Linked DNA regions of Homo sapiens: region 1 is linked to region 2. A link means that fine-mapping ties the variant in region 2 to the expression of a gene that starts in the linked region. Tissue or cell type: testis. Region 2 holds a variant in brackets; the other region holds the start of a gene. All regions are shown on one strand. Distances are from middle to middle.

Region 1 (5,000 bases), 120 kb before region 2:
CCACTGCACTCCAGTCTAGGCTATAGAGCGAGACTCTGTCTCAATTAAAAAAAACAAAACAAAACAAAAAAAGCTTAACTTCCTCGTAAAGCAATCTTTTTCAACTACCTGCTCCACCCTGACTCATTCTGATTACCTGCTCTGCCCTGACTCATTCTCCACCCTGACTCATTCCGATTTCCTGCTCTGCCATAACTATTTTTCCCACCAAACCACTTACCCGGTCACTCTCTTTAAATTAGTCAATCAGAATTAGTTTAGCCTGTGCCGTCTAACCTTAGCCAACAGGGGAAGGACACAGCAGCAGGTGCCACAAGCGTCAGGAATAAAAACCCCTTCGCCTCCCTTGTCCAGGTGTGTGCTCACCATTGCTCCATCTGTGAGGGCGCACCCTTCTATAGAAGTAAATTGCCTTGCTGAGAAGGAAAAAAGAAAATTTTATAGTTGAGTGCTATTTCTTTTGCGGCACCAAAACTTTATTTATAATGCTGGCAAGCCTAAAATTTGTAGGTCAAGTTAGAGACCCAGGAAAGAGCTGAAGGCAGTCTGGGGGCAGGATTCCTTCTTCCTCAGAGGACCTTAGTCTTTTCTCTTATGACCTTCCCTTGACGGGATGAGGCCAACCCACCTTGTGGAGGACCAACTGCTTTACTCAAGTCTAATTTAACTGTTAATCACATCTTAAAAAATACCAGCTATCATAGTACTCCAGAACAAAGGCAGTCAGTGTCTCTGCTCACAAAACACGGGAAAGTGCAGGTGACCCATGGAGAATTGTCCCCCAACACTATGTTTTTTCTTTTTTTGGATGGAGTTTCGCTCTTGTCACCCAGGCTGGAGTGCAATACCACCATCTTGGCTCACTGCAACCTCTACCTCCTGGGTTCAAGAGATTCTCCTGCCTTAGCCTCCTGAGTAGCTGGGATTTATTACAGGCGCCTGCCACCTCGCCGGGCTAATTTTTGTATTTTTAGTAGAGACAGGGTTTCACCACGTTGGCCAGGCTGGTCTCCAACTCCTCACCTCAGGTGATCCGCCAGCCTCAGCCTCCCAAAGTGCTGGGATTATAGGCATGAGCCACTGCGCCCGGCCAACACTACTTATTTTATAAAAACTCATTAATTACTGGTGTCTTTAGACTCCCTCTGTCCCTCCCCTCCATCCCCAACATTTACTTTTAAAATTTAAGACAAAACTTAAACATTAAACAATTATGAATTTAATTCCCCCATTTATATTACATTGATTAAGCTTTACACTATGACCCAGGTTCTAGGTGGTTGGGACACAATGGTTCAATCCCTGTCTAGTAAATAAAACGGACACCTTAAGCGCTACAATCAAGGTGCGCACGGGGTGCTACAGAACAATACGCAGACAGGAGGAGGTGGGGGGAAAGGTGAGACTTCCCAGGCAGGTGTCATCCCAGAATAACTTTTACACAGGGTGACTAAGCGAGTTAGTGACTGCGCGGAAAACGGGCTTCCAAGGTTCACAAGGCTCGTGCTGCGGCTCCGGGAGTTATGTCACAGTAAGCTTACTATCATCCTTTGGGCATCTGCTTTACGGATGAGTTCATCAGGATTTAAAGGATCTTGGTTCCATATCCTTCCCCTTCCTCACAGAGGCCGCCAGCCCGGAGCCCCTCTAGGCCCTCCTCCCTCCTGCATCTACTGGCCGCGAGCCTTTCCCTCCCCGCCCCCTTCACACAGGCCGCCCCCAGCCTCCCAACCCCCCGGTTCCGTTCCACGGGAGGCCCCGGCCTCCCTGCCCTCTCCTCCACCGTTCTACCCGCATCGCCCGGCTTCCCGCAAGCCGCTGGCACCGTCCCCTCAACACCCTCCGCCCACCGCCACTCCCTTCCACTGAGGGGGACCGGGCTGCCTTCTCTCTGACCCGCCGTTCTCCGCCCCCACCCACTTCCCCAGGCCTCCCGCACCACCCCCTTCCCGCCGCGCTCTCTCCCGCCCCCGCGCTTCCGGCCCCGCCCGCCCCCGCGCGGAGGACTGTGGGAGCGGCTTCCTTGGATTCCGCGCTTGGCAACGGCTCGGCGTCGCGCTTTGGCCAACCGCTGCGTCGTCCCTGGGCCCGAATAACTGTCGCCCGCTTCCCTCAGCGTGAGGTAGGAGAAGGGCGCTGGGGCCTAGTGCCTCAGGGCCCCTGGCAGCCGTGCCCCTGCGGCGTCCTGTGTGGCGCATCCCGCCGAGGGCCTCTTCGCCCGTCTCCTGCCCGCCCCTGTCGGCCCCGGGGCGGTCTGAGGCGGGGCCCCAGATGGACTCGGCCTGCCCCTGCTTTTCTTCCTCAGGCTCCCGAGTTGTCTACTCAGAAACGCGGGCGTTGTTTCTCACATCGGTGTCCCCAGCTCACAGGCTTTTCTTGCTCCTCTGAACTGGGACGGGCGTCGCTGACCGCTTGGCGATGTCCCAAGTCCCAGTCACGCCTGACGGGGAAACTTAAAACCCAGTTAGATTACTGCGCCAGCTCTGGAATCGCACAGCAGAGATGGTGCACATCGCTCTTTAATTTTCTTGTTAGGTGAAGCACTTCAAATTGCCTGATGAAAGTTGAATCAGGAATGAAGATAAAAGTACACAACAATGCAGAAAGCGGTACTTAGCCTCACAAAGATGGAAACATTCCAAAAACGTGAAGTACTGTTGTCCCAAGATTCTTTCTAAGCCTAAAATTACACTTTTACTAGTCCGATTTTCTGGTTGTGAGTTTTTTTTGTTTGTTTTTTTTTTTTCGAGAAACTGCAGTAGGCTTCTTGGAAGTAGACCAAGGGTGTCCAATCTTTGGCTTCCCTGGGCCACATCGGAAGAAGAATTGTCTTGGGCCACACATGAAATTCACAAACACTAAGGTAGCCGATGAGCTTTAAAAAAAATCGCAAAAAAGAATCTCATAATGCTTCCAGAAAGTTTACGAATTTGTGTTGGGCCACATTCAAAGCCGTCCTGTGCCACGTGCGGGCCGGGGTTGGAAAAGCTTGAAGTAGACTGTCCATAGTCAGTAGAAGAGTATTAAAAAACATACCTTTCACTTAAAAAAAAAAAAGGTTTTGCCAGCATTTGATTTATATTAAACATAGGTGGCATCATCCCCAGATTATTTCAACATGGAAAAGTTTGTTACATGTATAAGCTGCTTTGGAAATTGCCTGGAGAATCCAGAAACCCTGGGTTGTATAACAACAGTTGTTCTGCCACCCATAGCTATTAGCCATGCTTGATTCCCTTCAACTTTCCTGGCCTCACTTTCCACATCTTTTAATATTTGTATGTTCCACAAGATGTCTATTCAACTAAAGTCTCAAGTCAAACCTTTTAAAAATCTGGTTACAACCTAGCAGAAAGGATTTCTCATTCTAAAAGTTGCTTCCTTCTATAACTTATGTGTCAACTAAGCTGACTTAAATAGGGTTCATAATCAGAAATTATGGTTCAGAATAGTGGTTCTCAAAGTGGTCCCCAGACCAGTAGCCTCAGCATCACTTGGGTTTAAGAACCACTGGTTTAGTATTATCTGAGCTAAAGCTTTTAATTAAAAATATTTTATATATCTTTTACCAGTGACTTTTAATACCTTTTTTTTTCTTTTTGAGACGGAGTCGCACGCTCTGTTGCCCAGGCTGGAGTGCAGTGGCGGCAATCTCGGTTTACTGCAAGCTCCGCCTCCCGGGTTCATGCCATTCTCCTGCCTCAGCCTCCCGAGTAGCTGGGACTACAGGCGCCCGCCACCATGCCCAGCTAATTTTTTGTATTTTTAGTAGAGACGGGGTTTCACCGTGTTAGCCAGGATGGTCTCGATCTCCTGACCTCGTGATCCGCCCGCCTCGGCCTCCCAGAGTGTTGGGATTACAAGCGTGAGCCACGACGCCTGGCCCTTTTAATAACCTTTTGAAGCTATTTTGGAATGCCATTTCTATGTGGGTGACATTTGCCCTCATAGTAGTTAATTTTCATCTTCAAAAAGTAATGAGAAATTAACTCAAAATGGATCAATGACCTAAATATAAGAGCTAAAACTGTTAGAAAAAAAGCATAGGTATAAATATTCTTGACCTTAGATTAGGCAGTTCTTTCTTAGATATGATACCAAAAGTACGTGCAACCAAAGGAAAAATAAATTGTATATCATCAAAATTTAAAACTTTTGGCCAGGCGTGGTGGCTCACGCCTGTAATCCCAGCACTTTGGGAGGCCGAGCCGGGCGGATCACGAGGTCAGGAGATCGAGACCATCCTGGCTAACACGGTGAAACCCCGTCTCTACTAAAAATACAAAAAATTAGCCGGGCGTGGTGGCGGGCGCCTGTAGTCCCAGCTGCTGGAGAGGCTGAGGCAGGAGAATGGCGTGAACTCGGGAGGCGGAGCTTTCAGTGAGCCGAGATCGCGCCACTGCACTCCAGCCTGGGTGACAGAGCGAGACTCCGTCCCAAAAAAAAAAAAAATTTTTTTAAACTTTTGTGCTTCAGAGGATAGTACAAAGAATGTAAAATGATGTACAGAATGGGAGAAAGTATTTGTAAATCATTTATATAATGTTTAGTATCAGGAATATATACAGGATCCTTATAATTCATGTGATAACCTGATTTTTGGGAATGAGCTGGCCGGGCGCGGTGGTTCACGCCTGTAATCCCAGCACTCTGGGAGGCCGAGGTGGGCGGATCACAAGGTCAGGAGATCGAGACCATACCGGCTAATACGGTGAAACCCCATCTCTACTAAAAATAAAAATAAAAATAAAAATAAAAAAATTAGCCGGGCTTGGTGGCGGGTGCCTGTAGTCCCAGCTACTCGAGAGGCTGAGGCAGGAGAATGGCGTGAAACTGGGAGGCGGAGCTTGCAGTGAGCCGCGCCACTGCCCTCTAGCCTAGGCGACAGAGCAAGATTCCGTCTCAAAAAAAAAAAAAAATGAGCAAAAGATCTGAACAGACATTTCTCCAAAGAGATATAGAAATGGATAATAAGCAGATGAAAAGATACTCAACATCAT
Region 2 (10,811 bases):
TTTTTCCCATTCCCACATACAGCACAGTCAGGAGCTGTGCTATACGCTCTCCTGGCTCTGCTTTCCAGGGAACAGAAGTAGATATAACAATTTGAATTTCCCCATTGTAATCTGAATCAGTGACTCCTGTATGTACTTGCACTCCTTTTAAATTTAAACTAGACCTACCTAGAAGTAATCCTACCGTCCCCACTGGCATCATCTGACTGGAGACAGCAACATTCTTTAACAGTCTCATTACAAAAGGAGAACCTGGTCCATATTGATTAATAGCTGGTTTAAATTCTTTGAGGAATTTAAAAGGAAAAGGCTCAAATGTAGCCATAATATTCCCCTGTTGATCAGGTGAGTATATTCTAACAGAGAACTGCCAAGCATCCATATCACCTTCTCATCTAGCTTGCTGGATTCCTGCCTAAATGGAACTGAGAGCGGTCGCTCGAGGCACTGCTGGAACAGTCACTGGGGCAGCTACTTTTTGCCCAGTGTCCTCTGGAAAAGAGAGATTTGGAGAGTCAGGCCACTCTTTTTCTTCAAAATAATGAGGGGGTATAGAGGGGTAGGGACAAACCTCTCCCTCCTTTGTCTCTTTAGCTGGCAAGCAAACCTGCTCTGTCATCTCTTCTGTTAGTTACTTCGTTACACTCTCCTTCTTCCTCTGATTCCTCCTCCTTGTCATCTATATAGAAAGGCTCCAAGGTGGAACAAACCACAATCCACACTGACCAGAGAGTTACAGGAATATCCTCAGCACCATCGTTGTATGCCTTTTTCAGTGTGCTGCCTACCTTTTCCCAGACCTCTACATTCATAGTTCCTCGGTCCTGAAACCAGGGGCAGTATTTCTCTACCACACTAAAAAGTTGCATAAGTCAGCTGGTGCTAACCTTCACTCCTTTTCTGAGGAGATGCCGAAGCAGACTCAAGCCTCGTGCCTGCTCGACCCTTGTCCCATTGTTACCCTGATGCTTCCGAGCTCCCCTTCTTACTCACCACAGGGATTGCTTAAGAGTACTCGGGTGTTCCCCAGCGTAGTTCCACGTTCTCCAACTGTCGCTTCGGGGCGACCCTTCGACCCGGGTTCAAGCCCCCATGTTGGGCACCGCTTGCCGAGACCAGCTCGGTCGTGGAGACCCTAACCCAGCAGCACTAGAGGAATTAAAGACACAGACACAGAAATAGAGTGCAGAGTGGGATCAGGGGGCTGACAGCCGTCAGAGCTGAGAGCCACAAACGGAATCTGACCCACATATTATTGACAGTAAGCCAGTGCTAAGCATTGCTTCTATAGATTATAGATTAGCTAGAAGCATTCCTTATGGGAAACAAAGCAATTTTAGCGAGGAGCAGAGAAACAGGCCCTGGCTGATTATCTGCAGCAAAAACACGTTGTTAAGACACAGGCTGCTCCTGCTATTGTTTATGGCTAGAGCAGTTTTCCGCTCCCGGGGGTGGGGGGGCCAGGTTTTCCTTGCCCTGCTCCAGTAAACCAACGACTTCTAGCAGTGTGTGTGATAGCCATCACGAGCATGCCACATTGCTGCAGAAATCCTTTTTATGGCCAGTTTCTTTAAGGCCTGTTTATGACAGGCTTAGGGCTTGCTACCAGCACAAACTAACCTATAAAATTAGCAATGAATTTTTTAAAAGGTAATTCCCAAGGGTAGCAAGGATGAGATGAGATGAGCACTGTTTATTAACTAAATTCTGCTGGGGGGAGTTCTAAGTGGCACACCCTGCTGGGAATGTTTGGAAATATTCATCAAGCCCTTTAAAATGCCCGTACCCAGCCGGGCATGGTGGCTCACGCCTGTAATCCCAGCACTTTGGGAGGCCAAGGCAGGCAGATCACTTGGATCACTTAAGGTCAAGAGTTCGAGACCAGCCTAGCCAACATGGTGAGACCCTGACTCTACTAAAAATACAGAAATTAACCGGGCATGGTGGCACACACTTGTAGTTCCAGCTACTCAGGAGACTGAAGCAGGAGAATTGTTTGAACCCGGGAGGCAGAGGTTGCAGTGAGCCGAGATTGCGCCACTGCGCTCTAGCCTGGGAGACAAAACAAGACTCCATCTCAAAAAATAAATAAATTAATTAAAATGCCCATAACCTTTGATAGGAACTTACTTTAAAGAAATAATTTTGTACACACATATTGATCACATTATTTATGGTAGAAACATTGGGAATAAACCAAATGTTCAACTGGAAATAATTCCAAGTTGAATTATGTTCTTCACAGTTGTGTCACCCTGGAGCAGTTATTACAGGCCCCTTCTTCCCCACTGTGGTGAGATCCCACATCGAGCTTCCTTGGCTGATCTTTAAGGGGGATGCTGTTGCCATTGGGAGCTCCATAGACTTGGATCACTTAACAGCTTTGAGAGATGATATAACTTCTAGAGACAATCTTATTTGCAGCTGGAGTGCAGTGAATAATAATCATCACACAATGTAGTTTCCTTTTTACTTTTCTCTAAGCAAAATAATGTTCATACAGAAATCAGTAAAATAAAAATGCAGGAAAGGCAAGTACTTTTATTGGATCTTTAAAATGTGTTATAGGTATGACATCATGGAAATTATTTATAGTGAATGCTTAAGGTAAAAGTCACCCACAGATTGTAAAGTTCCTGAAGGCAGTGGCTGCATCTCCTTTTGCCTCTGCTGGGTGTGAACAGCATAAGGTACTGAGCAGGAGCACAGTTAACACTCATCAGAATTTAAAATAGCATCGGTGGTGTTAAAGATAAAGAAATTGATACATTTTTTCTTATTTTCATTACTTATATAAATGTATTATGTACTCAGTTTCACAAAATCATTGTATTTAAATATGATAAAAATCTCTGCCGCAACCTGTTTAGAAAATTAGCAAAAATGAAGGACATTGCTTTTCATCTTCCCTGTACAGTTATTTTTTCTATCTTAAGTTTATTACTGCTATAAATTATTTTTATGCTCATAACCATATTCTTTCTAAATTAGTAAAGACTGTCTTTCCTTGGAAACAATTCATTTTTATTTGGAGAGAAATTTTCACCAAAGTTTATGTAGTTAGCCCCTTAACCTTACTTAATTTATTCTGTGAATAGAGCCTTTTATAAGACTCACTTTCTTGAACTCCTGGCCTCAAATTCTCCTCCTGCCTCAGCTTCCTGAGTAGCTGAGATTACAGGCTCAGGCCACCACACCCAGCTTAAAAGTCACTTTCTTACCAAAAAAAAAAAAAAAAAAAAAAAAAAACCTCATATTTAAAAACTACGTCACTCTAAAATGTTACAAATAGGTCATCTTCTTAGTATGCATTGCCTTGTAAAAACATTGGTCAAGTCGGGATGTAGTCGGCCACCAACTAGAAATGTGTTAAGATTTTTTTTGCAGACTTGCTTAATAAGGCAAGGAGGGGGTCAGGTTGTTCTGGGGCCAGCAGAAGGGTCTAAAATACAGGGTAGTGAAAAGAGATTAGAGATTGTGAGTTTCCTTTAAATGCTTAACTGTCATTATTAAGACAGCCACATTTTGTGGGGCGAGCCAAACTGCTGAGCTTGGAATAGCATATGCTTGGAATCTGAATATGAATAAGGCCCAGGTGCCACACTT[TAC/T]ACACAGATCCTTTGCTAAAGAGGCACTATTTGTCTAACAGGCAAGGACCAGGCTGGCAGTCAGGAAGGCTGGGTTTTGGTGCTGATCTTGTCACCAACTATGCACTCTTGAACAAGTCACTTCACTTCACTATCCTAAGCCTGTTTTCTCATCTGAAAAATAAAGGGGTTAGACTTAGCCTTTTAAATGACATTTTTGTATATTTCTACTGGCTATAAAATTATTACAAATATCTATGTCTGACGGTAAGATAGTCTAAATATTCAGGAAAACTCCAAGTATAGCTCTCCTAAAAATGATATGTTGCGTGTTAAAAAAAGAAAAAAAAGAAAAGAAGAAGGGGGAGGAAAAAATAAAATGAAAAAAACTTCAAAAATGCACGGCTGAGTTGGTAGCAAAGAAGGAAATTCTTTGGAGGCCAAAAAGATCTAGAAAGTTTAAATCCAATGTGCAGGAGCTGGCATTGCCTAGCTAATCCCTCATGATTGAGAACCTCAGATTATAGACACTCATGGGGACCAAGAGATAAGGCCTGGGGCCTCAAAAAGGCCAGAGCAGAGGTCGGATCAAAGAATCCCTGTCACAAAGCTAGGACTTCTCACTGGCAATACTCTGAGTAGGCCAAGTCGGAAAGAGGCCACTCTGGCCGGGCACGGTGGCTGAAGCCTGTAATCCCAGCACTTTGGGAGGCCGAGGCAGGCGCATCACCTGAGGTCAGGAGTTTGAGACCAGCCTGGCAAACAAGGTGAAACCCCGTCTCTACTAAAAATACAACAACAACAAAAAAATTAGCCGGGCGTGGTAGCGCATGCCTGTAATCCCAGCTACTCGAGAGGCTGAGGCAGAAGAATCGATTGAACCCGGGAGGTGGAGGTTGCAGTGAGACAAGATCACACCATCGCACTCCAGCTTGGGCAACAAGAGCGAAACTCCATCTCAAAAGAAAAGAGGCCACCCTACAGATGATGGATTTTCACCTTGGTTCTAATGTAGAAAACAAGAAGAGCTCTTTTGATAATTCCTAACCATAAGTAAGCCTTCACTCACATAGTTTTGGAGCTAGAATACATATTATATCTGTGTGTTCTGAAGAACACCAAGCTGAAAATTTGATTTAAAGTGGACTTCAGTTGGTGAGGCTACAAGGTGCCTACAAGAAATAAACTTAAATCCTCCTTGGAGGAATGCACTTTTAAGTTCCAAAGAATAAGAACCTACAGTTAAGAAAAAGTATGCATGCATGAGGAAATAAGTCACTAAGAGTAAGCAACAACAGAAACTATAGAGTCCAATCTTCAAAGACTACAAATATTGTAATTATTATTTATTTATATTAGAGATGGGGTCTTGCTGTATCACCCAGGCTGAGTGCAGTGGTGCTGTCATAGCTCATTGCAGCATTGGACTTCAGGGCTCAAGTGATCCTCCCATCTCATCCCCACAAGCAGCTGGGATAATAGGTGCATGCCACTCTGCCCAGCCAAGTTTTATTTTTTATATAAGCACTTTATTTTTATTTAATTAATTAATTTATTTATTTATTGAGACAGAATCTCACCCTGTAGCCCAGGCTGGAATGCAGTGGCACGATCTGGCTCACTGTAGCCTCTGCCTCCCAGGCTCAAGCAATTCTTCTGCCTCAGCCTCCTGAGTAGCTGGGATTACAGGTGTGCACCACCACGCCCGGCTAATTTTTGTATTTTTAGTAGAGACGGGGTTTCACCATGTTGCTCAGTCTGGCCCCGAGCTCCTGACCTCGTGATCTGCCTGCCTTGGCCTCCCAAAGTGCTGGGATTACAGGCGTGAGTCACCGTGCCCGGCCCCAGGTTTTATTTTTTAAAGGTTTGCTTTTTCCACAAAATTTGAATCTTTCAGGCTAGGAATTTGGATTTGGATTTCAGAAGGGTTTTGGGTGCCTGAGGGAGCTATCAGGGTTTTGTTGGTAATTTACATCTGTGTAAAAAGTGAAATAACGTTGTCGTATTTACTAATGAGGATGTGTTTCTGACATTCCACAGTATTCCTCAGTGAGCAGTTCTGTGAGGCATTTCCATCTTATCTCTGTAATGAGAACACCTACATTTTTGTGGAGACATTGGTTGTCATATCTTATGTACCCATGAGTCAAAGAACTGTGTATGCCCTTGCCCTTCGTTGACTGCAAACCCTAAGGCAAGAAGGCCTGTTTGGACCACTCCCTGCCAACTTTGTTTTATGTTTCTCACCCAAACTTTTCTTCTCACATACTCATTCATCTTTTAAAAGATTGCTATATAGTTATTGTGTATATATTTGGTGGCTTATCTTAAACCTTTTTGGAGACAGGTAGGATATACATTATTCAGAAAAAAAAAAGTAAAAGAAATATCCCTAGAGCAATGTTTTTCAAACTTTATTGACTTGAGCTCACTCAGGCAGTTTAAAAGACACCCGTATACATTTCTGCATGGAAAAAATTAACTTTTGTTTTAACAAAAAGAGAGGGACAAAATAATGTAAAATATACTAAAGTGTGTAGACATATTCAGTACACTAAAGAGCTTTATTTTCCCGTAACATCAGTGGTAGGGGAAATGGTAAGGTTTTGGATAAGAACCTTAGAGAAGACTTACTATTTTGGGTCAGTTGGCCAATCTTAAAATGTGGGGATTTTAAAGACCATCTTGTTCTGATTTATTCCCAGAGACATTATCAGTAAACTAAAAGACAAACTATATTCAAAAACGAAATGGTCAGTGTGTTTATCAGTGGACTACTCTCATTAAAAGTGAGGCTTACATAATAGAAAAAATATCACTCTAGGAATTCTAAGGGGAAGAAAGGAAAACTGTGGGGCTAGAGGAGTACTTTTAGAAAATATCACAGAAATTTCTGGTTAAAAAGTACTACTAACATTTCCTACTAATGTTAGTGTTCAGTTTTATCTGAAAATCCTCAGTGATACATATTACATTTTTTCCTAAGGCAGCCATTGCCTATTTGGGCAATTATAAGAGTCAGGGTGATCTCTTACTTTCTCTTAAGTTCTTCCATAAAATTGAAACCTATAAGTAAGCACACATTTGAAAGAATACATATACAGACTACTCTTAAGTGATGTTTTATCTATATTATAGATTCCCACAAGATATTTCTTTTAAATTTCAGAAAACAAGAATTATATCCCTAAGAAGCTGGCTTCCAAATTAAACAACCTGCTTGTTTCTTGGCAAATAAGTATGCTTTAAGATGCATAATGTAGTTTTATGTTTTCTCAACATATTAAACAAATGCATTTTTATTTTCGTGTTTTCAGATAGTGGCCAGAACTATAGTGCCAGTAGTAAAGGTGAACGACTAAGTGCCAGACTCAGAGCTTTACCTGGGACAAATGAACCTTATGAAAGTAGCAGTAACAAAGAAATAGGCAAGTACTCTCCACCCAGTTCCTCCAGGCATAGCAGGTCTGAAGAAGAATGGTGAGATGGCCAAAAGGTGTTGCTGGGAATTCTTAAGAATTTGATATTTACAGATAAAATTTAAAATGACTTGGGAGACCATTTCTGTTCACTCTGAGTTATTCATTTTGACTATGAGCCTGATTGGTTTCACATTTGTTTTGTTTGTTTACATAACTCTAACGTGACAATCTCTTCGAAACCTAGATGCCTCCTATGTGGACCCACTTGGCCCTCAAATAGAACGACCAAAAACTGCAGCCAAGAAAAGGATCGATGAGGATGATTTTGCTGATGAAGAATTAGGAGATGATTTGCTTCCAGAATAATATTCACTTTAATATTTATTAAAGGAAAGAAATTGCCTTATGAGATCATCCTCATGTTAAACCTTGGATTAAATATCTAACCTGTAATTATTTTTTTTCACTGTCAAAACTTAAGTAAGTGTATTCTATTCTGTATGTATGCATTTAAGTTGTTTTTTTCTTTTAAGGAATAAAAACAGGTAAAACTAATACTTTAGGCCAGTGACTTCCTTAGCTTTTTGAAAACATTGACACACAGGAAGAAATAAATTTCATAACACAACCTAGTACATATATGTGTATGTAGTCATAAAAATTTACCCTTATTATTGCAATACATGCTAATATTTTCTATAGTTTCATTCAAACAAAGTGCTAGTAGTGAAGCCACTACATTGATTTCATGGCTTGCAGATTGAAAAATGCTGTGTGGACATAGGCACAATTTCTATTCATACTTAAATTGCTTGGAGTTTGGAAATTCTTTGGAAGATTTGCCTTGTGGGGATTAGAAACACTATTAAAACAATTATGTTTTGGAAGCAGTATAAAGGGTAATGGGATTAAATACCAAACCATAACCCTAGTGCTCCTTTCCGAAGTTCCTTTCTACTTCAGCCCGGGGGTGTGCACCAATAGCACAGAGCAGTAACAACTCTAAGATGGCTTTTCCCATTTGTGACTTAGTGGGTTGGGGGCAGGACTGCCTGCATTTTTCTTTAACAATGTGTTTGGCTGGTCTAGAGTCTCCAGAGGAATTATAATGACGAGGATGTCAGAAGCAGTGGCTTATCTCTAACACTATACCAAAGAGAATGGACCCCTCAATCTTACTTACCATTGTCTCTGCAACGTGCATGCTACTGTTAGATGCGAGGGAGGAAAACCAAAACTAGACCACATTCCTTGCTCCCAAAGTAGGTTATGCTCTAATTGATGAGACAGCCAACAAATACAGTAAACATCCAGTATGTGCAGAGAATTCATTAAAATTTGGGGGATACAGTAGTGAAAAAGAACTATACCTTGCCCTCAAGAAGCTTAAATTCTGGTGGGGAGATGGAAAATATATTTTGTTTGTTTGTTTGGGTTTTTTTTGAGATGGAATCTCACTCTGTCGCCCAGGCTGGAGTGCAGTGGTGCAATGTTGGCTCACTGTAACGTCCACCTCCTGGTTTCAAGCAATGCTCCTGCCTCAGCCTCCTGAGTTGCTGGGATTACAGGCACGCACCACCACACCTGGCTAATTTTTGTATTTTTAGTCAGACGGGGTTTCACCATGTTGGCCAGGCTGGTCTCGAATTCTTGACCTCATGATCCACCCACCTTGGCCTCCCAGAGCTGGGATTACAGGCATGAGCCAGCGTGCCTGGCCAGAAAATATGTTTTTAAAGGACTCTAGATATTGTTAATTACAGTTAAGAGAACAAAATGGAGTAATGCAATAGGTAGTGATTATAGAGGAGGGACTCTAAGAGGTGGCCTTGGTAATAACACTAGAATGGTGAGAAGAAAGCAGTGTTCTGAGCAGAAGGAGCAGCAAGTGCCGCACACTGAAAAATGAATGATCTGGATGTGTCACAGGGTTATTGAGCTACAGTGATAGTGAGAGGGTTTGGGATCCAGCAGTGTGGGTGGTGTGCTACATGGGCAGGAAAGGGAAAGGAGATGAGATCCAAAAGGTAGGCAGGGTTCAGAGCATGTACAGCCTTATAAAGACAGTTTGGATCTTATTCTAGTTACTATAGAACACCTGCTAGAAGGTTTCATGCAAGGGGGGTGAGTGAAGTGCTTTCATTTAACCTTTAGAAACCAGTCATCACACTGGTCGCCATGAAGATGAAGTGGGCAAGTGGGATGGAAGGGAAGAGTGGAAACTACTAGCAGTAGCCTGGGTAAGAGATGAAAGCAATTGAGACAGGTTTTTAGCAATAGAAAATTGTGAGAAGTGGTCAGATTCAGCATATATTTGGAGGCAGAGCTGAGACTTACTAATGGATTGGATGTGGATTGTGAGGGAAAGAGAGGAAAAGATGATGCCAAAATTTGTGGCTAAGGAACGGAGTGGCTAGTGTTGTCTTTTTAGTAAGATAGATTTGGGGGGGAATAAGTAGATGTGTTTTACCCATGTTAAATTTGTCTCAAGCATTCAATTTGAGATGCGAAGAATGCAGTTAATCTTTAAAATCTGGAGGTCACAGAAGTGAGGGCTACAGGTAGAGATGTGGGATCCATCTATGTACACTTCGTACTTAAAACCATGAAACTGAATGAGATCAATTAGGTCTGAGAGTGAGGCTAGAGAAGAAGTATAAGCAATGTGCTTGTGAGTACCAGAGAAAAAGGATGGCTCAGCAGAAGAGACTGAGAAGAGCAACAAGTGATGTAGGAGGTTTCAGGATTCAAACTTCCAGTTCTGAGAAGGATGCAGTAGGTCATGGAAGCCCTCCGTAGCAGCTGGGAAAAAAAAACAAATCATTGCAAAAATCATGTCTTCAAAGTCTCTGGAGATCTGTGGAATCAATAAAACTAAAAATTGCAGAGAGGAAAGAGCCTTTTTTTTTTTTTTTTTTTTTTGAGACAGAGTCTTGCTCTGTCGCCCAGGCTGGAGTGCAGTGGCACAATCTCGGCTCACTGCAACCTCTGTCGCCCAGGCTGGAGTGCAGTGGCGTGATCTCGGCTCACTGCAACCTCTGCCTCCCAATTCTCTGGGTTCAAGCAATTCTCTGCCTCAGCCTCCCAAGTAGCTGGGATTACAGGTACCTGCCACCATGCCTGGCTAATATTTATATTTTTAGTAGAGACGGGGTTTCACCATCTTGGCCAGAGGGTGGACTTGAACTCCTGACCTCGTGATCTACCCGCCTCGGCCTCCCAAAGTGCTGGGATTACAGGCGTGAGCCACTGCGCCCAGCCCAAAAGAGCCATTTCTAAATGAACTGCTGATCCTGCCTGTTTTTCTGGAGACATTCACCAGTTCTAGGCATGGGCTAAGAACTGCACTTTCCTCAGGGAAAAGGCGTCATCTAGAGAAACTAACAGAGCTTTTAAGGTGGTCATTTGGGGTTGGCATGACAAACTGGAAACTTAGAGAAGCCCCAAATGTATGGCTGGCTTTCCACCATGGGGCATTTGCTGGAGTGCTGCTTCAGCTGGGGTAATGCTGGAGGCTAGGGAACTGGGATGGAGGTTTTAAGGGCTTAAATCTCCCATAGTTCTTAGGGGACGATGTCCTGCTAGGGGGAAAGGCTTTCCACAAGATATTTGCTATTTAGTCTACCCTCAAGATAATTGCTATTTTGGGGGCCGGGCATACTGGCTCACACCTGTAATCCCAGCACTTTGGGATGAGGCGGATGGATCACTTGAGGTCAGGGGTTTGAGACCAGCCTGGTCAATATGGCAAAAACCTGTCTCTACTAAAAATACAAAATTTAGCTGGGCATAGTGCTCGTTT

Alleles and levels. Alleles are on the strand shown, and positions count from the first base shown. SD is a standard deviation of normalised expression in the study named.
For the expression in testis of the gene that starts at base 2,023 in region 1, T is the high allele of the variant in region 2 and TAC is the other (moderate effect, 0.58 SD a copy in GTEx).

What was found. PIP is the estimated chance that this variant, and not a neighbour inherited with it, causes the effect.
Region 1: IFT88 starts here. The variant in region 2 is the best candidate, but not a certain one, in a credible set for the expression of IFT88 in testis (GTEx, PIP 0.82).

Annotation. Positions count from the first base shown.
Region 1 is chr13:20,565,135-20,570,134 of GRCh38, forward strand. IFT88 (intraflagellar transport 88) reads left to right here and starts at 2,023. Exons shown (of 26, transcript NM_006531.5): 1 at 2,023-2,122. LOC105370103 (a long non-coding RNA gene) reads right to left here and starts at 1,895. Exons shown (of 6, transcript XR_941725.3): 1 at 1,542-1,895; 2 at 367-416. RefSeq lists silencers at 1,723-2,132, 2,228-2,416.
Region 2 is chr13:20,683,801-20,694,611 of GRCh38, forward strand. IFT88 (intraflagellar transport 88) reads left to right here. Exons shown (of 26, transcript NM_006531.5): 25 at 6,905-7,015; 26 at 7,254-7,644. The coding sequence ends at 7,375. Among named protein-coding and RNA genes, the nearest start is that of IL17D, 14 kb to the right of the region's middle. The variant TAC/T (reference allele first, on the strand shown) is at 3,607.